5 separate regions of the Homo sapiens genome follow, and all the other regions are linked to region 2. The links come from fine-mapping of genetic effects on gene expression. A gene starts in region 2. Each other region holds a variant in brackets. All regions are shown on one strand. Distances are between the middles of the regions.

Region 1 (5,107 bases), 72 kb before region 2:
GTTTCTCAAAAAGTTAAACATAGAATTACCATGTAACCTAGCAATTCTACTTCCAGGTATATACCCAAAAATAATTGAAAACAGGTGTTCAAATACAAATTGTACATGAACAACTGCTATGAACACTCCTAGTCATAGCAGGACTGTTCCAATAGCCAAAAAGTGAAAACAACCTCAATGGCCATCACCTGATTCATGGATAAACACCCTGTGGTAAATCCATATAACAAAATATTATTCAGCCATAAAAGAAACGAAGTACTGATACATGCTAAAACACGAATTAACCTTGAAAACATTACATTAAGAAGACACAAAAGGTACATAGTGTGTGATTCCATTTATACAAAGTATCCAGCAATTAAATAAGACACAAAAGGTACATGCTGTATTATATTTATATAGTGTATCCAGAATAGGCAAATCCAGAGAGACACAGACAAGAAACAAATGTATGGTTCTAGGGGCTGAGAGCAGAAGAGAACAGGGAATGACTGCTTAATGAATCCATGGTTTCTGCCTGGAGTGATGTAAAAGTTCTGGAACTAGGTAATTGTGATAGTTGTACAAAACACTGTAAATGTACTTAATGCTATGTGAGACATGGAGTCAAAGGAGGTTATTTTGGAGCTTTAAGAATTAATGACTGCCCTACTGTGTTTCAGATCTGCACGGGGCTTATAGTCCCTTTCTTTTGGCTGATTCTTCCCTTTCGGAACGGGAGTATTAACCAATGTCTGTATTCCCATTGTATCTTGGAAGTTATTAACTTGTTTTTGATTTTACAGGCTCATAGGCAGAAGAGACTAGTTTTGTCTCAGATGAGACTTCGGACTTTTGAGTTAATGCTGGAATGGGTTCAGACTTTGGGGGACTCTTGTGAAGGCATGATTGTATTTTAAATGTGAGAAAGACATGAGATTTGGCAGGGGACAAGGGTGGAATTACATGGTTTGGGTCTCTGTCCCTACACAAATCTTATGTCAAATTGTAATCCCCAACGTTGGAGGTGGGGCCTGGTGGGAGGTGACTGGATCATGAGGGCAATTTCCCCTTTGGTGCTGTTCTTGTGATAGTAAGTTATCGTGAGATCTGGTTGTTTAAAAGTGTGTAGCTCAGTTGCATGCAGTGGCTCACGCCTGTAATCCTAGCACTTTGGGAGGCCAAGTCGGGCAGAATGCCTGAGCTCAGGAGTTCGAGACCAGCCTGGGCAACAGGGTGAAAGCCTGTCTCCACTAAAATACACACACAAAAAAAATTAGCCGGGCATGGCGGCGTGTGCCTGTAGTCCCAGCTACTCAGGAGGCTGAAGCAGGAGAATTGCTTCAACCCGGGAGGCGGAGGTTGCAGTGAGCCGAGATGGTGCCACTGCACTCCAGCCTGGCAACAGAGTGAGACTCTGTCTCAAACAAACAAACAAACAAAAACAAAAACAAAAACAAAAACAAAACAAAACAAAAAAAAAGTGTGTAAGTGTGTAGCACCTCTCCCCGGCTTCCTGCTCTGGCCGTGTAAGAGGTGCCTGCTTCCCCTTCTCCTTCTGTCATGACTGTAAGTTTCCTGAGGCCTCCCCAGCCATTCTTCCTGTATAGCCTGCGGAACTGTGAACCAATTAAACCTCTTTTCTTTATAAATTACCCAGTCTTAGGTGTTTATTTATGGCAGTGTGAGAATAGACTAATATACCTCATGACTCAGCTCAGATGCTACTCTCTTTACAAAGAATTCCTCAATAATACACTGAAAGTATATTCCCTTTCTAAACTGCCTCCCAAAGCTATTTATCTGTAGCTCCTTTAGAGTACACATCACTTTTACAGTATATTTGATATTATCTGAATTTAGCTTTTGTCCCCTTAATAAACTATGAGCTTCAGACTGGGAAAAAATCAACTCTAATTCACACCATTGCCTTGTATATAGCCCAAAACCAACAAATGTCTTAAATGAGTAAAGATGAGTGTCCCCTTGGAGGCCTTATTTCCTGAGTCTTAGCTATTCCAGGCAATTGATGATGTTTAATACGTGGATCCCTGCATAAGTGGGATGTATGCACGTATGTTTTTTGACATTTTGAGTGTATTAAATGTTAACAGTTACTCCTTTGCTTTTGATCCCAGTCATGTGCTTGAGAAACTAACCAGCTTCAATATTTTAATTATGATGGTTTTCTCACTAAAAGCAAAATTGTTTGGAAGAACAGATAATAGATTTGACATGCACTACCTACCATATTCATACTAATGTTATAGTACGAATTATACAGAGCAAAAGTTAAGTTAAACTATACAAGGTAAGGAAGATGGATAGAAAACAAAAACCTGAATTTTCAAGAGAAAATGTAACTGAACTTTTCTTTTTTTTTTTTTTTAAATGGAGTCTTGCTCTGTCACCCAGGCTGGAGTGCAGTGGTGCAATCTCGGCAAACTGCAATGTCCACCTCCCAGTTCAAGCAATTTGCTTCAGCCTCCTGAGTAGCCGGGATTACCACACCAGCTAATTTTTGTATT[G/T]TTAGTAGAGACGGGGGTTCTGCTATGTTGGTCAGGCTGGTCTTGAACTCCCGACCTCAAGTGATCCACCCGCCTTGGGCCTCCCAAAGTGCTGAGATTGCAGGCGTGAGCCACCTCACCCAGCCCAAACATTTATTTCTAAGCTACACTTTGCATTTAAATCGATATACTCCAAAGGATTCAATATAGATGCCCATAAAAAAGATAAATATCTCCATCAGGAGTGCTATGTACACATCCACTCATGAAAGAAAAAAAACATTCAGAGCTTTTCTATAGGTCTCAAACAGAAGAGCCAGCTATACCACAGTTTTACCACAAATGGGTGATAACAAGTTATTGTTTACTTGCACTAATGAAATAGAACCCAGCCAACTTAAGTCATAGTGATAGTTTTGATAAATTTTGAGAAGAAACATGAAGGGAAATTAAACACCAGACTTTGACCATACGATTCTGAGAAGAATCTGAACTAAAAGCTAGGTAAGCTAACTGGGGAAAAGAATGTGAAGAGTAGGGAAGCAGTAGGAAATTATACTTATTTGAAAAAAAATATTTATAACTTGCAGTTGTCTTTGTGAAACTACATGGAAAAGAAAAAATTTAATTATTTTCTAACTTTTATTAAGATTATTATTTGTGACTCCTCTAGTTCAAAGTTATAGGAAGTTTTAAGTGATCTGTTCCAACGATTTTCCCACAAGCTTTGTTTTTAGTGTGCACTTGTGCAGAATGAAGGTGTTTACACAATGCATATATCATGCTTTGGCAAAAATACCTGCTCATGAAATGGTACAAAGCTTGTTAGACAATTCAAGTATTTTAAGAAGAAACAAAATATATAATTTATTATATATTTATAAGGCATATTTATAAATATACATTAATATACGTAAGAGAATTTAATTTGTAAGATTCCCCTCTAAAAGTGTTGAAATTTGCTAGATTTACGAATAGATTTTTAAGATTTGTAGATGGAACTTAAAAGTTTGAGCTACAGTTATTATTTTGAAGCTCTAATAAATTGAATATTTTTAATCCAAAGTAAACTCTAAATAAATATTCAGATTTTTTACTTTGAAAACACAAAATCACAAATGAACAAAAAGAAATGAAACAGCTGAATACATTATGGGATAGGCAAAAGGGATTAATCCCATTATAATCCCCTCAATAATGTTCTAAATTTCTATCTATTTGAGATTAACTGGGGCTAACAAAAACAAACTAACAAAATTTATAGAACTAGCTAAGAAGTGTCGGTCATTCCCAGCTCAGTATTGGTTAATCAGGTGCTCTCCCTACAAGCCATGGCAGAATTTGTGAAGGAAAGAACAGAAATGTCAATGAAGGAAACTTGGTGGGGTTGGGTGGGGACAGCCCATGGAACGATGACCCTGAGAGACAAGAAACCAGTGAAAGGAAAAAAAAAAAAAAAAGTAGGAATTTTTTTCTTAATGCAGTTTCGGATCAATTGTGTGACAGTTTTCTTAATGCATTCAAAGTTGTTGTGGTTCTTAAAGCCAAGAGGTTTACACATCACTGACTATATAAAACTAATTCTGTAGACAATTTGTCTTATTTACAGATAGATAACTTTCAGATATGCTTTAAAGTTTAATCTTGGTAAACCACCACTAATTTTAATACTGTATATGAAATCCAATAATATAATTTAGTTTCAGAATCAGAGTGAACATACATCAGAAAGTGTTGTAAATCTCAGATTATTGCAAAAATCTAACATGTGAAAAATCCAACAATTACATTTTATTTACAAAAATTGATTTACATAGGATTTGTTAAAATCCAATTTATGAAACAGAACAAATCTAGAGACACTAGGTTGCCCTTACCACTTGTGTGGAATTTGTCTCTCTAGAAAGTTTTATAAAATGTTGCTTTTATATTTTAGTTATATATGCAATATACAAACAGTTTTTTGAAAAAAAAAAAAAGACATTGAAATAAATGTAAGCTATACATACATTTAAGAAAGATGAATAAAAACATTTACCCACTAATTCCAGTTCAGAATTGCAGGTGGCCACGGCCCATCCCAGCAGCTTGGGGCCAAAGCTGAAGCCCACCTTGGACCAGATGTCATTCCATTGGAGGGCGCACTCACACACATACCCCACACTCGCTCAGACTGGGGCCATGCAGATGCTGATTCACCCAAAGCGTACATCTTTGGGATGTGGGAGGAAACTACAGTACTACACAGACATAGGGAGAATATGAAAATTCCATATTGACAGTGGCCCTGGCCAGGGATCAATTTTTTTCCCTCATCGATGTTATGACATTATTCAAGGATATGATGTAAGGAGTTTCTCGCTATATTAAAGAAGCTATCTTTGTTAATACTTGGAATTTTCAAGTATTGTATAAATGAATACTCTGCCTAAGTTCCCCAGAGGAGTCAAGTCTGTTATTGCTTACATTTGATACATGACTCAATCTGAGACTTGCTTTTGAACAAGTACACCTGTATTTTTTGGCAACCTCTTAAAGTTTTGTCATTCTTCAAATTCTAGTTCACTCTAAAACCTCGCAGTTAATGAACTAGAATCCCCTTCTTTTTTAAACACTTA
Region 2 (5,107 bases):
GATCTTGGCTCACTGCAACCTCTGCCTCTTGGGTTCAAGCGATTCTCCTGCCTCAGCCTCCCGAGTAGCTGGGGCTATAGGCGTGCACCACCACGCCCAGCTATTTTTTTGTATTTTTAGTAGAGACGGGATTTCACCATGTTGGCCAGGATGGTCTCGATCTCTTGACCTCGTGAATATCTGATTTTTTTCAGTGACAACAAAGCTGGTGCCCAGAGACCAAGGTTAACCACTCATACTACAGTACTATACAGCCTCCTCTAAGGTATTCCTGCATTTCATTTCACTCCAGACCTCTAAACCCATGGGTTCCCTACAGCCTAACTTTTGCACAACAGAACTTAATAGTAGGGGTCCCTGGACTTCTGTGGAAAAAGGAAGTTGCATGTGAGGTGGGAATTTGAAAGAAGAGTATGAATAGTTTAAATTCCAGAACTGCCTTGGATTTCTAGATGTCGTATGTAACTCCAAAACCAAACAATAGACATGCTTAAGAATATTCACAATGTCCCTAAATTAAAGCATATGTTTATGCTTCTCTTATGGGGGAATAAAGTGGTTTACAGGCTTCTGGTCAATTCATAGGTCATATTGTTTACTTTTATTTAAAATTAAGTTAGGTCTGCCTTTTTAAAGGTAAGAAAAGTTAAATTTTAGACGAAAGTCTAAATTTGTTACATTCAAAAGGAATTATGTATTAAATTCAAAAGACAATTTAAATTCAAGTTCTATTTTTTTCTGCATGTGCTTTAAAGTTGAGTTATATACACCTAAACAAATTAAAAATTATTCAACTGGCATATACATTGTAAACGAATATCTCATTTAGGAACCAGATGATACTTTATATATATTTACACATATGTTTATATATATACACACACACATACATACATATATATTCAAAATACAATCAGGCACTAGACAAAATAGTCATATTGTTGGTATTACGATTTTATAAGTTTGTTTTGTTCTGATTTGCATTTGAAAATTAGATCAGCCAAAACTTGATGGCAAATAGTCTGATTTACAGCCCAACTATGACAGTCAAAGGAGACACCAGAATTACCCGTCACTAAATCCCATCACCAGTATTACCAGGGAAGTGGGTGAGGACTGTCAAGGGCATTACAGGTAATGGAACAGCAACACACAAAGATTTGGGGATTTTAACAAACTAAAACCAGTATTTCACGAACACCTAATAAGGACAAGATCACAACCTATCCCCACATGGTCAAATTAACTTGGAAAGGAGAAAAACTTCACTCTGACATCGATTGGTACTGCCTTCTTTGGGGAGGAAAAAAAGCATTTTTATACTCTGAACTCTGTCGTTCTCATAGACAAAGTTATAGCAGTGTTTGCAGAGAGTAGGGAGTATCCCATCCACCACTTATTTCTTTCTCATATCTACTCAGTAATTCAATACAAGAAAGAAAAAGATAACCAGGACTTAAAGCAAAAACAGAATTCAGTTCCATGCTCCTCCCAAGCCTTATTATTTCCAGGTGTTATAACTGGGAGTTCCGCGGACAGATTTGAGTTCTACTTCCGCTCCTTTAACCCCCTATTCCGAAGAGTCCAAGAGCAGCAGCAAAGAAAAAGACCAACTCGAAAGTGGGGAAGGGATGTTGGGGTTAAAGAGGGGAGTTAAATAACCAGACCTTTAGTGAAGAATAAAGAATTCAGGCTGTAGTTTGTAGAAATAAGTTATTACAGGCCTGTAAAGTCTGGCGCTGGGTAAAGCCCAAGAGGCTTTCCCTAACTCCAAAACGGCGACCTTTAAAGTAAGGGAGGGTTGGGGCACCACAGCGGCCGGATTTCTAATTGTGGAAAGTTTAAACAAATTTGTCCCTCGGGGAATGGGGGAAGGGAGAGAAGAACAAGTCTGGGCTCGGCCGGGGAGCGTGCGGAGTCTGCACGCCGCGGCCGTCGGTCCAACGCGGGGAGGCTCAGGGATTTTCGGCAGCAGCGACTTCATCCACCCCGGACCGCCGGCTGGAGGACGTGCCTGCAGCCGGCGGGTACCTGCGGCCAATTCGGTGGAACGAGGACGCGGACTGCGAAGGCAGGTGGGTCTGGCACGAAGGGGCAGGAGTCCTAGGCTCTGGGTGGAAGTTGGGGGTGGGACGGCGCCGGGAGGCCGGGGAGGCAGCGGCGAAAGGCGGCGGGCGGCTCTACTTACTCGGCTGTACCAGATGCTGAGGCGGGCCGCGGCCAGCACGGCGAAGAAAGCCCTCTGCGGGTCGGACTGAACGTGGAAAGGCGCCTCGGCCGGGCTCCCCAGAGGGCACAGCAGCCTCTTGGGCCAGCCGCTCAGAAAATACATGGTCCGTGCGGAGCCCCCGGCGCCCCCAGTTGCGTCCGTCACACTCAGCGGCCCCGGGCTGGTCGCCCACCTCCCACACCGCCACCGGCCGAGTCGGCGGCGGCGGCGGCGGCAGCTCGGGGCATCTGCCCGCTGGCCTGGCCGGGCCGGGCCGACGCAAGGCTGCGCGACGAAGGCACCCCCAAGCTGACGGGGCCGAGTGTGGGGGAGGGAAGGGGAGGGAGAGTAGGGACACAGAGAGGGCGGGAGGAGCGCGGAGGCCCGCCCCGACCCCGCCCCTTCCTCAGGCCGCGCGGGCGTCACCACGCCGCGCCGCGTGGGTCGGGCCGGGGAGGGCCCGCGCGCGCGCTCTGGAGACTCCTGCGGTCTCCCTAGCTGTTTCTTGAAGCTCTGCATAAGCCTCGCCCGCGGCCGCCGGGTTGCGTCCGCACTTCTGCGCGCTGGCCCCTCCCTTGCTCCTCTCCCTAGCAGTCTCCAGGGTTTTACCGGGAGGACCTAGGCAACGGCCTGAGACTCCGAGGCAAGTGGGGCGAGTCTAGGGATAACGCAGCAGCAAGGCTACTGGGCCGGTGGAACACGCCCTGGCCTGGCCAAATTGGACCTCCCTTCCGGATTGGCGGGGTCTCGGTGGGGGCGGGCCGGTTGCCGGGGGGAGCTGGAGTCACGTGACGGCCGGCGCGGTTTCCCACTTTGGGCTGCCGGCCGCTGTGGCTGTGGTGGGCGGTAGGGGCTTTTACCGTGTGAGCTCCTTTAATGCCGGGGTCTGCAGTGAGAGCTGGTGATGAAGCTCCTGCCGGTGTGGAGCTTACATCCCTAAGGGAGCGTTTATTTAATCAGTAAATAAACCACTCACCATGAAAGTATTGAGTTCTGTCTCCTGCCTTTCAGGAGTTCTAAATCTATGTCTTTGAAATCCATTTCCATTCGTCTCAGCCTTACCAGCCATAACTTTAGATGAGAGGAGGCTATCTCTTTCGTGCTGCAAAAGGCTTGGACTTAGTTTTAGAACTGGAAGGGACTGGTGATAGCGTAGGTCCATATTTAGCTTTTGGACCCCAGGTATCACCTTAGCTGTAACTTTCAACGGATTGACCCAGTGGTAACGTCTGAATAGAAGGAGGGTTGAGGGGATATGGTGTGGAATGGGGGAAGGAGGAGTCTGAAATAGAAGAAAGATTTGCTTCTCATTGTCTACCTTTTTTAGTACAGTTTGAATTTTTCCATATGTTTGTATTACTTTTTCAATTAAAAAGCCAGGTTTAAAAAATGACCCCACATTAAAAAGTAGCAACGTAGGCGGGGTGCTGGGGCTCACGCCTGTAATCCCAGCATTTTGGGAGGCCGAGGCGGGCAGATCACTTTAGGTAAGCAGTTCGAGACCAGCCTGGCCAACATCGTGAAACCCCCGTCTTACTGAAAATACAAAAATTAGCTGGGCGTGGTGGCAGGTGCCTGTAATCCCAGTTCCTCAGGAGGCTAAGGCAGGAGAATCGCTTGAACCTGGGAGGCGGAAGTTGCAGCAAACCAAGATCCCTCCACTGCACTCCAGCCTGGGCAACAGAGTGAGACTGTCTCAAAAAAAAAAAAAAAAGTAGCAACATAAACAGAAAAAAGGAAACAAAGAAACTTAATTCATATTAGATATAGCATTGTAGCTGGTATTCATAACCAAATATGTAACTTTCTGTAATTTTTCTAAACATTCACTGCATTCCCTGGAAGGTGATGATAGAATCCTGTATTCCTCAAATGGAGGTTGAAACTGCCTCACCACTCACCAGCCTGTTGCGATCAGATTGTCTCCTTGGCGTCTACCCTCCCCCAGTCCAACACAGCAGCCTGGAACATAGTAAGCATAGTAAGCTGGCAGTATTTGTCAGACAAACCGTGGAGGAAACCCTGATCCAGCTGAGCTACACCATTAGACAAAGAGGCCCAGAGAGGTTTCTTAACTTGCCAATTTCAAATTGTAGAATAACAAAGTTGCATCATACTTTCATCTTAGATTCAGTTATGCACTTGGCAGAAAGAGGAAATGAAAATGTTCTAGTGCAGCAATTTTGCTGGCAGTGTTACTGAATGTTTGTCCCAGCTGTCTCTCAGAGAGTCTTTGTTCTCATGTGTCTCAAGTTTGTCATACTGTGCTCATGGGCAATTTAAGGAACTTCTAAGCAATTTTTATTGCACTCAATTTTAACCTTACTTGCTGACTTTAGAAGCTTATTCCTCTGCCACACTCCTGTGTAGCACTTAAGATTCACAAAATAATTCCAAATGCTTGTCTTGATTTAATTCATAGTAAACATTCAAGGTGAGTGACATTGGTGTGATGTTGTTATTCTCACTTTCTCAAGTGAGGAAACAGGACAGGTGTGGTAGATGTGCCTGAATTCACATGGCCTGAAAAGAACTGATGTTCTTTCTACAGATCCAGTGTGATTTCTTTCTTTTTTTTTTTTTTTGAGGTGGAGTTTCGCTCTTGTTGCCCAGGCTGGCGTGCAATGGTGCCATCTCAGCTCACTGCAGCCTCCACCTCCTGGGTTCAAGCAATTCTCCTGCCTCAGCCTCTGGAGTAGTTGGGATTACAGGCATGCACCAACATGCCTGGCTAATTTTGTATTTTTAGTAGAGACGAGGTTTCTCCATGTTGGTCAGGCTGATCTGGAACTCCCGACCTCAGGTGATCCGCTCACCTCGGCCTCCCAAAGTGCTGGGATTACAGGCGTGAGCCACCGCACCCAGCCTCCTGTGTGATTTTTTTAAAAATTTAAGGTT
Region 3 (5,107 bases), 43 kb before region 2:
GATGAATTTGAGGGCTTCAATCTTTAAAGGGGAAAAGTGGGCTGGAGGGGAGAGAAGGAGGGTATGGTAATCCACAAGTTCCAAGAGAAAAGAGCAGGTAGGGGAATAGTCAATTATGTATTCGTCTGGCATCATTAAACAGGCACTTTACATAAGATATGGTGAACATAAGTAGCTACTTGTGGAGTAGGTAACCTAACCTTTTATCTGTAGTTATCAGCTCAGGAACAAAAGGAAAGGCAGTTTCTTGCATGACTGGGCTTTCAGCTTATTTTTTCCCTTTTGGAGTGGTGAATTGGGGTCCTGAGTTTTTATTATCCTTTCACCACCGTCTTATTTCTAGAACTTTGTGGAGATGTTAAGATAAATATAATATTAGTCATAGTAATCTGGCTTATATTAAATATATTGAGTAAATGCTGACCTGCTTCTAGTAATTTAATTCATCCTTACTTGGGCTATTTAAAACATGAATTAACATTTTAGCTTATATGAATTTTAAAATTCATACAGGATCATAAATGAATTTTTGTTAAATTTTTTTTTTATGAATGACAAATTTCTCCATGTTCAATGAAGAAAACCCAAGAAACACAGAAAGTAACAAAAATAAACTGCCAATAGTTTCACCATTCACAGATAATCATTATCAATTTTTATGTAGTCCTTATGTCTTTTCCAGGGACATTTGCACAAACTCTTATATTTTACAGCATATTAGACTTCTGCTGAAGTCTGTTTTTAAATCCAAACTGATGATACTGTAAATGCCTGCTAATGTAACTGGTTATGACGAGCACAGTTGATAAATCTGTTAGTTTCTTAAGTAGAGGGTTATCTAAAATACAATTTTTTTCTTTATATAAAGCTATCATACAGTTTTATAATCTGCTTTTATGACATTATTTTATCACAAATGTTGTATAAACTTAACATTCTTCTGTAACTTGATTTTAAATGTCTGCATTGGATTCTAACTCAGAAATGAGTAAATTTTTAAACTGATAAATATATACAGGAACTTTTATCATTTTCACACAAAATTGGAATCTTAATTTACACATTACCATGCAATTTGATTTTTTTCACTTAGTGTTTTCTGACTGTTCTTCCACATTCATAGATACACTTACTACTATTTTTAGTATTTGTGTGATATTCCAAAGTATGGAAGTTTCTTATTTACTTTGCTATTCTTTTCTTGATGGACCTTTGGCAACTACAGACAATGCTGCAATCAACATTTATTTATATATATATATATATATATATCTCCTTATGTTTTGGTGCATATATATTTTGTGGGGTACCTTCCCTTAAGTAGGATTGCCAAGTCAAAGTGTATGTATGTACATTCATTTTAATATGTATTGCCAAATTTATCCAAAAAATTACATTAATTCCCAGTAACACTCTACTTGTTCCTAGAATTCCTGTTTATGCCTGCATTAGATTGGTGAAAAATGGTCTTATTTTAATTTCCATTTGTTTCCTTGCTAGTGATGCTTATCTTTTCATTTTTATTGGCTCTTCATACTTCTCCTTCTGCAAGTTGCCTTGTTCGTCCATTTTTCAATAGGATGGTCTTCCATAGGAAGTTTTTATTAATATGAATATTAATACAGATAATAATTGTCCCTAAGCATTGCATATACCTAACATGGATGGTATGGTCATCACGTTTCATTTTCTTGTCTAAACTTGTTTATCACCTATCTCTCACTAACCTAGGAATTAGTTACATGTCCACTTGCTTGTCCTGTTCACTGTAGCTCCAATACCAAGGCATTCCCTTATTAAACGAAATAAATTATCCGAACATACCGTTACTTAACCGAGATAAAGGACATCCTGTCTAGGTACAGGATTGTTAGAGATTCTTTTTTCATGGCTATGAGATGTTGTTCTAATGTTCCCTTAAGTTTCCAGGGTTAGTAGTGAGAAGTCTATTGTCAATGTGATTCTCTTTCCCTTTTCTCTGAATGATTTTTCTCATGACTGAAATTCAGTTATTTCTGCACATTATCTCTAGATATGTACGTTTTTTCATTAAACTTTTTCCACATAGCCCCACCCGCAATCAAATGTATCTAAGTCTCAGCCTTTTCAATCTGACAACCTTCAATGTTTCTAAACTAGGTAAGTTTCTTCTATTATTTCCTAAACTAATACTTGTTCTGTCTTGTTTTCTTTCTATAACACTCATTCCCAAACCTCTTGAATTTGCTCCTGCAGGTCTCTTATCTTTTCAAAAATAATTTTATTTCTATATGCCTTACATCATGAAATTGTTTCTATTTGATCTTCTGGAACAAAAGATTCAGCTCTCACAAGGGGTTATTTATCAGTTCATCTGTTGAATTTTTCTCTTAGGAAATTTTTAGCTCTGAAAAATCCTGATTATGTTCTAATTACATTTTCTGAAAGTTCTTAGTAATTTTTTTCTTAATTTACTACATTCTTCTGTCTCATCCCTGTGGCTCATCAATAGGAGCCACATATTTTACTTGTTTAGTTTGGTCTTACATCGTAAAGTTAATGAGCTCCCTTAGTGGTTTTTTTCTTTGCTGTGTTCCATTAGCCACCTGTAGAGGTTAGGCTTTGATGTGGGTATCTGGCAATGCAAACCTACAGATGCTGGATAAAGTGACAGTTTGCAGAGGCAGACAAGCTCACATACTGCTGAGCTGAGGCTTCAGCAGTCTCCTCTCAGGCACTGTCTCTGAGTAGAAGGGCCGGCTTCCTCAGACCATGAGGTGTGGCAGCAACTGAGTTCACCTGTGCAACCTCTACTCTAAGTCCGCAGCAGTTAACAGAGTTTTATGGGAAGCCCTGCTAATGTCCACTTCCAGGAGCAGACACAGTCCTCCCTTTTCTGAAGGGAAACCACAGGATTCCACTTTTTTAAGCTCACTTAGAGAACTGTGAAATCTCAGATCCTGTCTCAGTGCCTTAAGGAGTGGCAAAGCAAACCTTTCCCTCTGCCTGGTCCTTCAGCACCTATTCTTTCCCTAAAGAACTTGATATCTTGATGATTCTGACTTTAGGCTCATGTTTATACTCCTGAGAAGAGGAGAGGAGTTAGGAATGGGGGCTTA[G/A]TCCTTCTATCTTCTCAGAATTTAGAAATTAACTTAAACCATTTCTACTAGTTGTTCAAAGTTTTTGTAGCCTCTGCCTGCAAAACAGGTTCTTTTTTATTTTCATTTCTTTCATTATGATATAAAATAATACAGGCTGGGTGCAGTGACTCATGCCCATAATCCCAACACTTCGGGAGGCCGGGGCAGGCGGGTCACCTGAGGTCAGGAGTTAGAGACCAGCCTGGCCAACATGGCAAAACCCTGTCGCTACTAAGAATACAAAAATTAGTTGGGCCTGGTGGCGAGCACCTGTAATCCCAACTACTTGGGAGGGTAAGGCAGGGAGAACTGCTTGAACCTGGGAGGCGGAGGTTGCAGTGAGCAGAGATTGCGCTGCGCCACTCCACTCCAGTCTGGGTGACAGAGCAAGATGCCGTCTCAAAAAAAAAAAAATAATAATAATAATAATAAAATAAATAATACAGAGAGCCATCTCTGTATTATTTGGTAATAGTTTAGAAAGGTCACTGATATTTTTGTATCATCTGTTTAGCAAGACATTAGGAGGAGGAGAGGAGCCTGAATTCTGCTAAAGTGTAAATGTAAACAATTACCAGTCATTATTCCAGAGGTCACAAGATTTGCAACTTCCCCAATTACTCCTGCAGGTAACATCACTACTGTAGAACCTAAGATTGGCCTTTTCAGATACCTTCTCAGGTTTTTGCATTTCTGACGGCGGAGGGCTCCACGTGGACCCACCAACTGGTCCTGGTCCTGTGGTCCTACTCAGAAGTGGACTCGACATGAAGACCATTTTCCACACCTCTGACTGCCTCCCTAACCAATCAGCAGCACCCATTCCCTGCCCCACCAAACTATCCTTGAAAAACCCTAGCCTCCAAATATTGGGGAAGACTTATTTGAATAATAAAACTATGGCGCTTCTGTTCAGCCAGCTCTTCATGAATTAAACTTTCTCTATTGCAATTCCTCTGTCTTGATAAATCAATTGTATTCAGGCAGCAGGCAAAACGAAACTGTTGGGCAGTTACAATAGTTTTAATGGATATATCTGGGCTCATTCCATCTTTATATAATGCTTTGGATTTTATATATAAAAATGAAATGACTCAAAAAATCATAAAAGGAGTATTAAGGCAATTTTATATTACATGGTTAAGAATTCTACTGCACAGTAATATACAATAAGTAGGTCATGGCAGACCAACTCTCCCAACAGCTAGAAAAAGGCAGAAAACATAAAAAATTATATTTTTAAAGGCATCAGGCAAGCTATGGAATCAATAAGGCCTAGACTGATTAAAATTCATAGTAGGAGGGCTGTTCAGAAGTAAGCTGATTTTTTTTCCCCTAAGAGCATTCACCAATTCTGGGCACAGGCTAAGAAAGCAGCAGACTTAGTTCAGGCAGACGCCTGCTGGAGCAAAGAAAAATCAGCAAAGCTCTTGGCAGTTACATAGGGTTGAAGAAATAATCAGACTTGAAATGCCTCAACTCCACAGCCAATTTTTCCCACAAGACATCTGCTGAACTTAGAAGCTGCAGAAGGGGCTCAAGGGCTCGAAAGCAAACTTCATACAGGCAAAGTAAAATTTCCTGTATTTGTGAGATGCACAGGTATCCATACTAACTGGAGACCTGATGTGCCTCAAACACATAACCAGTGACAAAGATTCTGTGCTTAGTCAAACTTTAGTCAGGCTCCTGAACCTTCTTCTCTTAGGTCCATCTGTGCATTTCCTTATAAAATCCAGTTTAGCAAGACCCCCACACTTGATATCTGATTAGGTGGCTCATCCTCCAATCTCCCCTAAGTGATGTCTGATCACCCTGGTCTGTCTTCAGCAAGAATCCTGTTGTTTTAGCCAGAATCCCCATTACCCCTGATGTTTCCTCTTATTAATTTTCTATCCATTGACTCCCACACTGCTCCTTGGCTATAAATTCCCACTTGCCCATGCTGAAGAAGTGAGCCCAATCTCTCTTTGCCACTGCAAGAACCC
Region 4 (5,107 bases), 260 kb before region 2:
TTTAACAAGTTCCATGGATGACTTGTGTCCACCCAACTGTGAGAACTGCTCTCCACTGAGGTTTCAAAGAGATACATAATACCCAAAGCAGGTATGTAGTCCTTCTTGGCTGGATGTGGGAACTTATTTTGCATCATTCTTCTTCATTCCACCTGCTGGCACAATTGTGAGAAGGATAAATATTCTCAGATCTTAGGGATGCATTGTTTTAATGAAGATTGCCCCATTGTGCAGGATCTGGATTTTATGCAAAAAAATTAAAAAAAAAAAAAGAAGATGGCCCCATTCCCCTACCTCCATCCCACCTATTTAAACAAACAGCAATGGGGGCAGGGACTTTTCATGAGAGGAATGACTTTTGACATTGGTGGCCATGTGCAGTTACTTATTTTCTGGACCGATCTCCTTCAGTACCTGCACAAGATGATGATGTTCCATGTATTCAGGGGTTCCTACACTCACAGACTGAAGTTAAGTGTTTCATTGTGCTGGAAGCTTTGGCCATCTGACCCTTCTACAGACAGCAAAATGTCAAAAGGAATTACTTTCTCTTTAAAGGATAGCTCCCACGCATACGGGTTGAGTGGGTATTTTTCTTTTGTGCTGGAATCCAGAGGCTCCCTCTTGTTCTCAAGGAAAATGTCAGATAACCCACCTGACCCTGCTTATGCACGTCATTCAGGTTGCAAGACACAGAAAGCTTGTGCCTTCAGTCAAGGGGTTCCTTCACATGATAGTGGTCATAACCCCCTTTGCCCTTTATTAAGCCATTGTCCCTCAACTCCAAACCTACCTTTCTATGCTCTGCTCTGTGATGCTGGGACTGGACTCTGCAAATGCCACTTCTCCTTTGCCCACTGGCTCCCATTAGAGTACTCTAGAGGGTGCCTACAAACCTGGGGCATCAAGAAGGAGCAGCTCCTTCCAGTGTGCTTCTGGCTCCTGTCAGGATCACCCCAGCAATGCTCACATTGTCTGTATATGCCAAGCACCAGCTCGTTTTCCGGCATTGTCAGAGCCAGCTTCATTATGCCCCTCCCCAGCAGAGCACTGGCTGACCTCAGAGGCCTGAGTATTTGATTCATGCCCCTCACTTCTAAGCTCTTGAGACACCAGAACCAGCCAAACAAAAATCTCTCCTTAGAGATCTGGGTCCCATTTCTGTGGCGTCCCTCCTCCCAACTCTAGGTCCTGATGGCCTCACCCTTCCGTTTGTTACCCCAGACACGGGGGTAGAAGCAGCATTCTGTGGGTACAGCCTTGGTTGCCCCGATGCCTTCTTTGCCTCCTCAGTCTCAGTCCCATGCCTGTTTAACCAGCTTCTTATATTAAAGTCTCTATGTTGAACCATCTAGTTGGTTTCTTCCTGACTAGACCCTGAAAGTTACCTTGTTCAGGTTGTGGGTACACCTGGCTATGAGGTTCCCCAGCTGGGCATGATGGCCCTACATGGCAAAGGACAACTCCACTTTCGGCCTACTGAGCTGACTAGCATCAGCCTCCAGCTTCACACTGAGAGATACTGACCTCTGCCCTAGCCTCTCGTCGGATGGGATTGTGCAAATATTTGCCTCTGCTGGCCTGCAGCATAACACTTAAGAGCATGGACTCTGGAGGCAAACAGACCTGGATTTAAATCCCAGCGCCACCATGTCTGGCCACACATTTCCTAATTTCTCTAAACCTTTCTTCATTTACAACACAGCAAGAATGATACCCACCAGGGTGGGTGCCACGGGGCGGGGGGCGGGGGTGGAGCAATAAGCAGAAGTGACGTGTGCCCCTTGAAAGGAACGGTCCTAGCCTCTCCTTCACCTCCTGCTTTCTGTTGGCAAGATGTGGAGGTGATGGCACAACATCTTCAGCCATGGGGACAAAAGTGACATCCCAAGGGAGTAACCAGCAAGAAGAAAACGAACAGGCCTTGAACTCTTTACTCTTGAATTTTTACACGAGACATAAAAGTATATTTTAAAGAGTCTGTTGAGTGATTATACACAAGCTGAAACGATACCCTAACTAATAGCACGGGCAATGGGCTCCCCTCCCTCAAAGAGTATGTTTTTGCTGTCAGGACATTTTCTGAGAAGATACCGCCGCCCTCATCTCCAATTGGCCAGGGATATTAGAGGATCCTATACCAGGGTCTTCTGAGGAAATGCTGTCTGCCTGAACTCTTCCTCAGTGCCTTTGTTGGGCTTTACATCTTGCTGGTCCCTGCGGTTGACTGTTAACAAAGATTGTTCAACAGCTCTTTCCAAAGAAAGAGCAGGTTCACAGGGAGTTCTGGACAGACCACATAAGAGGGTGTTGTCCTGTTAGAGTCCCACGCAGAGGGTGGGGCCTCCCCTGCCCCTGCCACCCAGCACGTACAGAGTATGTCCCTTTCCCACTCCCAGCACATACAGAGTATGTCCCTGCAGCCTCTGGGTTTTCATTACCGCACTTACATTTGCTGAAATTAATCTCATGCCTAACTCTCCCACTAAGTTGTGAGTTTTTTCAAAGATAAAAACAGTGTCTCACGCCAGTATACAATGCTTAGCATTTAGAAATGCTTAATCATATAAATACTTATTTTTAATTCACTCATAAAACCCAATGTCTTTCCTTAGGATAAAGTTATACTGCAAAGGCTGTGACCTCCATCTTCCTCTCGAGTCTGGCTGTGGGCTGAGTCACACACACCTGCCCGTCATCCTTACTGGCTCCTTGGCAACTCACTTTTATTCTGTCTGCAAACCACCTTCAGGAATTTGAGTGGAGGAGACAGAACAAGGATTGAGGAGAGAGGCA[T/C]TGTGATCCTGAACAGATGTTTTTCCACTTGGGAACCTACAGATAAGACCCAATAGTCAAAAGTGCACCCAAAAATGGCAAGATCCAACCTTATACCATTCCCATCTTCCTGCCTGTTTGGCCTCAGAGAAGCTTGACTGAGCCCCTTATAGAAGCACAGAATCTCCTCCCCTTGTTGCCAGGGATGTTACTGTCTGGGGAGATAAACACTAGGGAGATTTACGAGCAGGCATGTACTGGTGGAAGTCAGCAGGCTGTGTCAGCAAACGGCAAACTGGAAGCCCTGCTGGGTCTGGTTTTGAACTTACTCTTCAGCCGTGGTGTAAGAGTGGCCGTGCCCCTTCTTGGGGTAACCATAGATGAAGTGAGCATCTTCTCTTGGCATCTTGTAGGGTCAGGGCACAGGACACCTAACAGAAGGAGCATGTGGGCATCATTAATGCATCCAAAGCCACCCTATTCATCATCTCATAAAGACCCACAACAGCATCCTCACTAGGTGACCAATATCCATAGCCAGGACCCTTTGGTTTCTCTCTGTGAGGGGATTTGCACCTGCTTCTTTCATTCATATCAAGGGCTTTAGCAATAGCTCAGGTTTCTAACCCCTCCTACTAACTGAAAATTAAGTTCAAAGAAGAAACTACAAACAAAAGCAAAAAAGACTTGCAAGTTGAGTTATTATTTGGTGAAAAAATATTCCTCATTTGCCTTCAATTTGACTCTGCACCATAAACTTCTAGAGAAACAAACAAAATGCATTTTCACTGATTCTCCACCTTCCCTGGCCCAGGGCTGTGGCTAACAAAATTAGAGGAGTTATTTTTCTCCAAAGTTATTGTTGGATATCAATCCCACAGACAAACAGAGGCTATGATACATAACGTGTGTTTCCCAGAGCACCCGTTGCCTGTGCCTCGCGAGGGTGCATGAGGTTGAGCACTGAGCACAACATCTTCCAGCCCAGCTTTTCAGCAAAGGAAACCACCCCACACAGGGGCTTCAGCCTGTCCCCAGGCACTCCACCCAAAACAAGCCGAGGAAGCCCAGGACCTGACTTTATCTAACAATGTGTTTCCCTTCCTACTTAAGTCAATTTCTGCTTCTCTCTGGTTCAAGTCCCTTGGCTAGGATTCTTTTTTTTTCTAACTATAACACATACAAATGAACAACAAAAAATATCCATAAACTGCAGTGGCCGTAATTCAAGTACGCTCATTAAAAACCAATAATGGAAGCTCCTTTCCTTATTATTGTGTATTTTTCTGCTCTCTTACTGTCCTCATGAATTTCAAAGGTGTGATCCCCATAGAATTATATTAATGAGCCCCAGTTTAAAACAACAGGGAGAGGTGAGACAGAAGAGTGGGGATTTCGACACATGACCCCTTTCCACTGGGACATTTTATGTGTAATTTGCCCTTCCCAGTTGTAAAAAAGAAATGAAAGTCAAACTCACCAGTCCTCTCAAGTGAATAATATAGGACTGAACCCTGTGTTCAAAATGACAGAATGGAATCTTAATTCTTCATTAAATTGTTTTAATACATCCCATACCTCAAACTCAGAGCCTTGGCAAATGGTGCAGCAACAGCAAATGCGCCTCTTACTACTCAGACCAGGAGAAGTGGTTCTTTAAGTGACAGGAGAACACATCTACCTCAGGGAGGCTGCTTCTCCCCAGCAAGATGCCATCCTGAATAATTGCTTTTCTTCTTGGTAGTGTTGGAGGACTGAGAGAGGATTCAGGAGGAGGCTTTGTGAGCCCTCTGAGGTTGGAGACTGACAAACGTTGCGGAGAAATTCTGTTGATGTCACACATCAGCGGGGCAATGAGGGTAGGCAGAGGACTTAGCCAGAATTTCCCAAATCCTATTCTGGGAGAAGAGGACTATGATTATGGCGAGAAGGCAACGCTCTTACCTTCCTTAATGAGAGTCCTCTGTCTGCTGGCTGGCCGCGTGTATGAAGACTGCTTCTCTGGCTCTTAATCGTTTTGACTTATTTTTTTTCCTGGTTTTGAGTCCCATGATAGTCACGGGTTTAGATTTCTGACGGGGTCGTCTGTAATTGCTAAATTGGCATGAAAGAAACCAACTTTATTCCTTCCTTCAAAAAGTCACAGCTGACTGTGGCCTCTGTTTTCCCCAGTCCCAGTGCTCTATCCTAGGGAAGCCATTTATTTTAAATGTTGGTCCCTCCTCCATAGGATTGCCATGTCACATAAAATATGACATGAGCCTAGTTATAATGATTTAAAATTCATGGTCCGACACCACAATTACTTTTGCACCAACCTAATTGATGTCTA
Region 5 (5,107 bases), 160 kb before region 2:
ACTTTGTCTTTTACTCCCATGGACTCCAGGCCTCTGCATGGCAGTTCTGGATAGAAGTGCAGGTGCCAATTTCCCAGCATTGTTTGTTTCATTGATTAGGTTCCCAGGTGGTATTTAGCAAGAACCTTGGGTTCAGTATTCTGGCTTCTGAGAACTGGAGAACTAATTGATTTTCTCTGGCAGGTTTCAGAAGAACATCCTGAAGGAATGGTCACCGTGGCCATTGCTGCCCACTATCTGTCTGGGGAAGACAAGAGATCCCCTCAACTGGATGCTCTGAAGGAAAAGTTCCCAGATTGGACATTTCCCTCTGCCTGGGTGTGCACCTACGATCTCTTTGTATTTTAATCTTGTGGATGAGCTCTAAGTACATGCCCAGTGGATACTCCATGTGACATGGTTTCTCCCTATGTTACGTGGATGTTTGTAACGTAAGTCAATGAATTTTAATGATCATATGTTCAAAGAGCTTTCTGGGTTAACGCTTTTCAGGGCCAAGCACTATAAGGGTTTAGCTGTGGCGCAGTGATGCATGGCCTGTTGACACTTGAAAATGCCAGTCTTTTGGCACTTCAGCACATGTGGGTACTGCCACTACACACACGTCATTTTATATGACCTTAAGGACAAAGCCAACAATCCACTTCAATAGCTGCCCCTTTAGGATCAAGAAAGATGTACACTGTCAGAGCATTGTTAATGAGACAAAAGTTGTTTCCAATTTAAGCCCCAAAACCATTTGTTGTATTAGTGGATGGTGGGTAAAATATCATTCACTGAGGTAATGATTCCCCTTGAGAATATAACTCTGTGTAGGTCACTGGAAAGTGATTGCCATAGGGCTGGGAGAGAAGCATTGCACTCTTGAGGCTGTAGCCTGTGTCAAGCTGTTTCTTCAGGCAGCCTCTCAAATGTGCTTTGTCTCTCTGTGCTGAGGCCTGGACCCTGTGCTGAGCTGGTGACTCACTGTCCTGACAAGTGGACACACAGATGCACTGCTGTGCTGCTTTCCTGAGGTGGTTTTCTATGCCTGTTTTCCTCTGAAACATGTCTGTTACCCCTCTCCATCTTACCAAGTTGAAAAGGGGAATATTTGGCCACATACCCCTCTGGTTTTCGTAGGTTCTTTTGGTTCAGAATATTGTTTGTGCCAGTACATGACCTTAACTTCCTTCCTCAGAGCACTGAGCTGCCATCTGGGCTATTCTGGGGTAGAAGGAAGGCTGGGAGTGGTGGGAATTTTATAAATATTTATTCTCTTTTCTTTGTTTCATAGGAGTCTTGTGTTATACAAGGTTAGTCCTTCATGGTATAATCTTACTGATGCACTGGGCCTATCTTTTTGTTTTCCAGCCAGTTGAATAGATTAGTTTTTCTCAGTAACTTACTATCCAGCAGACTGGCTTTCCTGAGACTTGAGGTTGTGGCTTATACTGGAATGAGACCACTGTACGTGTAGGTGGTTCAGATCCTGCGTAATGGCAGCATGAGGACTTAAAAGGTGGTTTTCATTTTGAAGATGGCTATGTAGCTTGTAAGGTGTATCACAGCAGTACCTCTCATGGCTTTTTGGTTCCAGCAGTGAGGGCATTGGTGAGATCAATGGTAAACTGTGCAAGCTTTCTTTTTATCATTAGGAAATGTGAAACGTTGGACAAATTTTGAGTTTTAACAAGGACAAAAAGTTGAAAGAAAAGGCACAGTTAACAAAAAAGGGTGGCTAGATTTATCTTGGGTGATGGAGGAAATGAGAGAGGAATGCTCTTGAAAGGTGGTCTGTGGATCTGTCTGAATAGAAAGAGCACAGTAAGTATGCATTGCCGGAGAAAACGTCCTTGAAGCTGCTTGTCTCATGTGTATGATGTGCTTTTTAAATCATGCCCCTCGTTGCCTGCCTAATCTGTGACTCCCTAAAAACTAACTGGGCCCATGTAGATGGGGCTGCAACCAGAGCTGAATAACATGTTAGGCTCACACATGCATCAGCACTGCACACTGGAATCATTGCTCTTCCTGGACTTTGTAGAAATCAGTCTCAAGTGCTTCAAGAGTCTGGCTCCTGCTACTTTTATCTGTCAGGTAGCACATAAGGTTTGCAGGGTTTATATTTTGTATAGAATCACAGTTGTGGAGAAAAAGTAATAATTTCTCAATGAATTTTAAAAATGGGCCTATTTTCTATCCCCGTGGTTCATCTGATATAATTAGTGTTCCCTGTGAATTCCCCCCCTCTATGGGAAGGATGCCTTTACTCTTTATCAGTAATAAATTATGACTGTTTTCATATTGCCTTAGGGTTATTTCCCTGTGTAAACCATTGTCTTTTGTTTTGGTTTTCTTTAGCATTATGAAGCTTTGGTATTGTACAAGGTCAGTAGTAAGATGCTCACTAGTCTCAGGGCTTGTGTAATATTCTGGGAGGTCATTTAAATGCCAGAAATGGTCAAGCAATTATACACAGTATTTATGACTCTGTTAAGCATACCGTTTGTCTGTCACATTAGTAGATTCTGAGATTAAAAAAAATTTTTAAAGAGTGATCATTTAAATAATTTCTAAAAGGGTCTTTTCAAGCTCTAACAAAGTCACTAACAAATGCATTATTTTCTACAGAATTAGATGTTAGTAGTACAGTACTGCATATTCAGGGAAAAAGTGTGAGGAATTGATTTCAAAATAGTTCGTTCTTGTGTTTGACCTAAGAATGATTGTCGCATGAAGTGTTTGTTTTTACAGTTTAGCATATATAAACAAACATGATAGGATTCCTTAAGATGTTA[C/AC]CACCCAGGGGGCCACAAGCCAGCCTGCTGTCTCAGGAAGCTGTAGAAGGAGTGTTTGTCAATTTCTTGTCACTGGTTTGCTGACTTACTGAGGATTAATTGTTGCCTTACAATGTTACTGAAATAAACTGTTTAATATACTGGTTGGTATCTTTTTAACTGAAAAACAGATCTGTGTTCTTCTGTATCCCCATATTTTCAAGGGTTATTCCATGTCCACAGAGCCTTTTAATTGCTGTTAAAAGACCTAGATGGCTCATGTGAGCAAAGAACTCAACATGGAAATGTTTACTTCAGTTAGAATCCTTTATCTTAGAATGAAATGGTACTTCTGAATTTCACAGAAATTATTAGGTAAATGTTGAGCTTCACCTATGTAGGAGTTTTAAATCATCCCCATTAGCAAAAAAATAGCAAAGGGTAAAGGGCGTTCTTTTATTTGGGAGTAAGGGTAGGAGGGAGGGAAGAAGTTGCCTTTCAGCCAGAGTGACTCATTGCTTATTCTAATCTCCACAGAAGGAAAGGGCACCACCACTCACCAAAATAGAGCATGAACTTTGAGTTCAGAGATCTCTGTGCAAGTTATTTAAACTTTGAGTGAATTCTCTCAGAACAGTTCAATGCAAGGTGAAGCAGCTGAACAACTTCTAACCTAATACTCCTCTTCTTCTTTTAGGGCCAATAAAGTCAAGATGCAGTTATGGCTATTTACATTTGTTTTTAGCCAAGATGCAGTTACGACTCTTTTTAAATTTTTTAAAATTATACTTTAAGTTCTGGGGTACATGTGTGGAATGTACAGGTTTGTTACATATGTATACATGTGCCATGGCAGTTTGCTGCACCCATCAACCTGTCATCTACATTAGGTATTTCTCCTAATGCTGTCCCTCCCCTAGCCCCCCACCCTCTGACAGGCTCTGGTGTGTGATGTTCCCCTCCCTGTGTCCATGTGTTCTCATTGTTCAACTCCCACTTATGAGTGAGAACATGCGGTGTTTGGCTTTCTGTTCTTGTGTTAGTTTGCTGAGAATGATGGCTTCCAGCTTCATCCATGTCCCTGCAAAGGACAGGAACTCAACCATTTTTAGGGCTGCATAGTATTCCATGGTGCATACGTGCCACATTTTCTTTATCCAGTCTATCATTGATGATGGGCATTTGGGTTGGTTCTGAGTCTTTGCTATCGTGAACAGTGCTGCAGTAAACATACATGTGCATGTGTCTTTATAGTGGAATGATTTATAGTCCTTTGGGTATATATCCAGTAATGGGATGGCTGGGTCAAATGATATTTCTAGTTCTAGATCCTTGAGGAATCGTCACACTGTCTTCCACAATGGTTGGACTAATTTACACTCCCACCAACAATGTAAAAGAGTTCCTATTTCTCCACATCCTCTTTAGCATCTGTTGTTTCCTGACTTTTTAATGATCGCCGTTCTAACTGGCGTGACATGGTATCTCATTGTAGTTTTGATTTGCATTTCTCTGACCAGTGGTGATGAGCTTATTTTTCATATGTTTGTTGGCTGCATAAATGTCTTCTTTTGAGAAGTGTCTGTTCATACCCTTTGCCCACTTTTTGATGTTTTTTTTTTTTCTTGTAAGTTTAAGTTCTTTGTAGATTCTGGTATTAGCCCTTTGTCAGATGGATAGATTGCAAAAATTTTCTCCCATTCTGTAGGTTGCCCGTTCACTCTGATGTTAGTTTCTTTTGCTGTGCGGAAGCTCTTTAATTAGATCCCATTTGTCTATTTTGGCTTCTGTTGCCATTGCTTTTGGTGTTTTAGTCATGAAGTCTTTGCCCATGCCTGTGTCCTGAATGGTATTGCCTAGGTTTTCTTCTAGGGTTTTTATGTCTTACGTTTAAGTCTTTAATCCATCTTGAGTTAATTTTTGTATAAGGTGTAAGGAAGGGATCCAGTGTCAGCTTTCTGCACATGGCTAGCTAGTTTTCCCAACACCATTTATTAAATAGGGAATCCCTTCCCCATTCTTTGTTTTTGTCAGGTTTGTCAAAGATCAGATGGTTGTAGATGTGTGGTATTATTTCTGAGGTCTCTGTTCTGTTTCACTGGTCTATATATCTTGTTTTGGTACCAGTACCATGCTGTTTTTGTTACTGTGGCCTTGTAGTATAGTTTGAAGTCAGTAGCGTGATGTCTCCAGCACTGTTCTTTTTGCTTAGGATTGTCTTGGCTATGTGGGCTCTTTTTTGGTTCCATATGAACTTTAAAGTAGTTATTCAATTCTGTGAAGAAAGTCAATGGTAGCTTGTTGGGGATAGCACTGAATTTGTAAATTACTTTGGGCAGTATGGCCAT

Which allele goes with the higher level. Alleles are on the strand shown, and positions count from the first base shown. SD is a standard deviation of normalised expression in the study named. Not every link is listed here.
In carriers of allele AC in region 5, the expression in prefrontal cortex of the gene that starts at base 2,535 in region 2 tends to be lower than with C alone (small effect, 0.33 SD a copy in CommonMind).

The links. PIP is the estimated chance that this variant, and not a neighbour inherited with it, causes the effect.
Region 1: its variant is fine-mapped to the expression of RIC1 in tibial nerve (GTEx, PIP 0.96).
Region 3: its variant is fine-mapped to the expression of RIC1 in whole blood (INTERVAL, PIP 0.92).
Region 4: its variant is fine-mapped to the expression of RIC1 in whole blood (TOPMed, PIP 0.97).
Region 5: its variant is fine-mapped to the expression of RIC1 in prefrontal cortex (CommonMind, PIP 0.95).

The regions. Positions count from the first base shown.
Region 1 is chr9:5,698,857-5,703,963 of GRCh38, reverse strand. All of the region lies in intron 3 of RIC1 (RIC1 partner of RAB6A GEF complex), which reads right to left. Among named protein-coding and RNA genes, the nearest start is that of INCR1, 72 kb to the right of the region's middle. The variant G/T (reference allele first, on the strand shown) is at 2,511.
Region 2 is chr9:5,626,535-5,631,641 of GRCh38, reverse strand. RIC1 (RIC1 partner of RAB6A GEF complex) reads right to left here and starts at 2,535. Exons shown (of 26, transcript NM_020829.4): 1 at 2,189-2,535. The coding sequence starts at 2,332. INCR1 (interferon stimulated noncoding RNA 1) reads left to right here and starts at 1,915. Exons shown (of 3, transcript XR_007061406.1): 1 at 1,915-2,075. RefSeq lists enhancers at 1,715-2,215, 4,126-4,345 and a silencer at 2,236-2,775.
Region 3 is chr9:5,669,701-5,674,807 of GRCh38, reverse strand. All of the region lies in intron 2 of RIC1 (RIC1 partner of RAB6A GEF complex), which reads right to left. Among named protein-coding and RNA genes, the nearest start is that of INCR1, 43 kb to the right of the region's middle. The variant G/A (reference allele first, on the strand shown) is at 3,099.
Region 4 is chr9:5,890,549-5,895,655 of GRCh38, reverse strand. It overlaps MLANA (melan-A), which reads right to left and starts at 4,767. Exons shown (of 5, transcript NM_005511.2): 1 at 4,720-4,767; 2 at 3,105-3,206. The coding sequence starts at 3,181. It also overlaps a transcript of BRD10 not described here. The variant T/C (reference allele first, on the strand shown) is at 2,797.
Region 5 is chr9:5,782,385-5,787,491 of GRCh38, reverse strand. ERMP1 (endoplasmic reticulum metallopeptidase 1) reads left to right here. Exons shown (of 15, transcript NM_024896.3): 14 at 1-62; 15 at 184-2,920. The coding sequence ends at 348. Among named protein-coding and RNA genes, the nearest start is that of ERMP1, 48 kb to the left of the region's middle. The variant C/AC (reference allele first, on the strand shown) is at 2,781.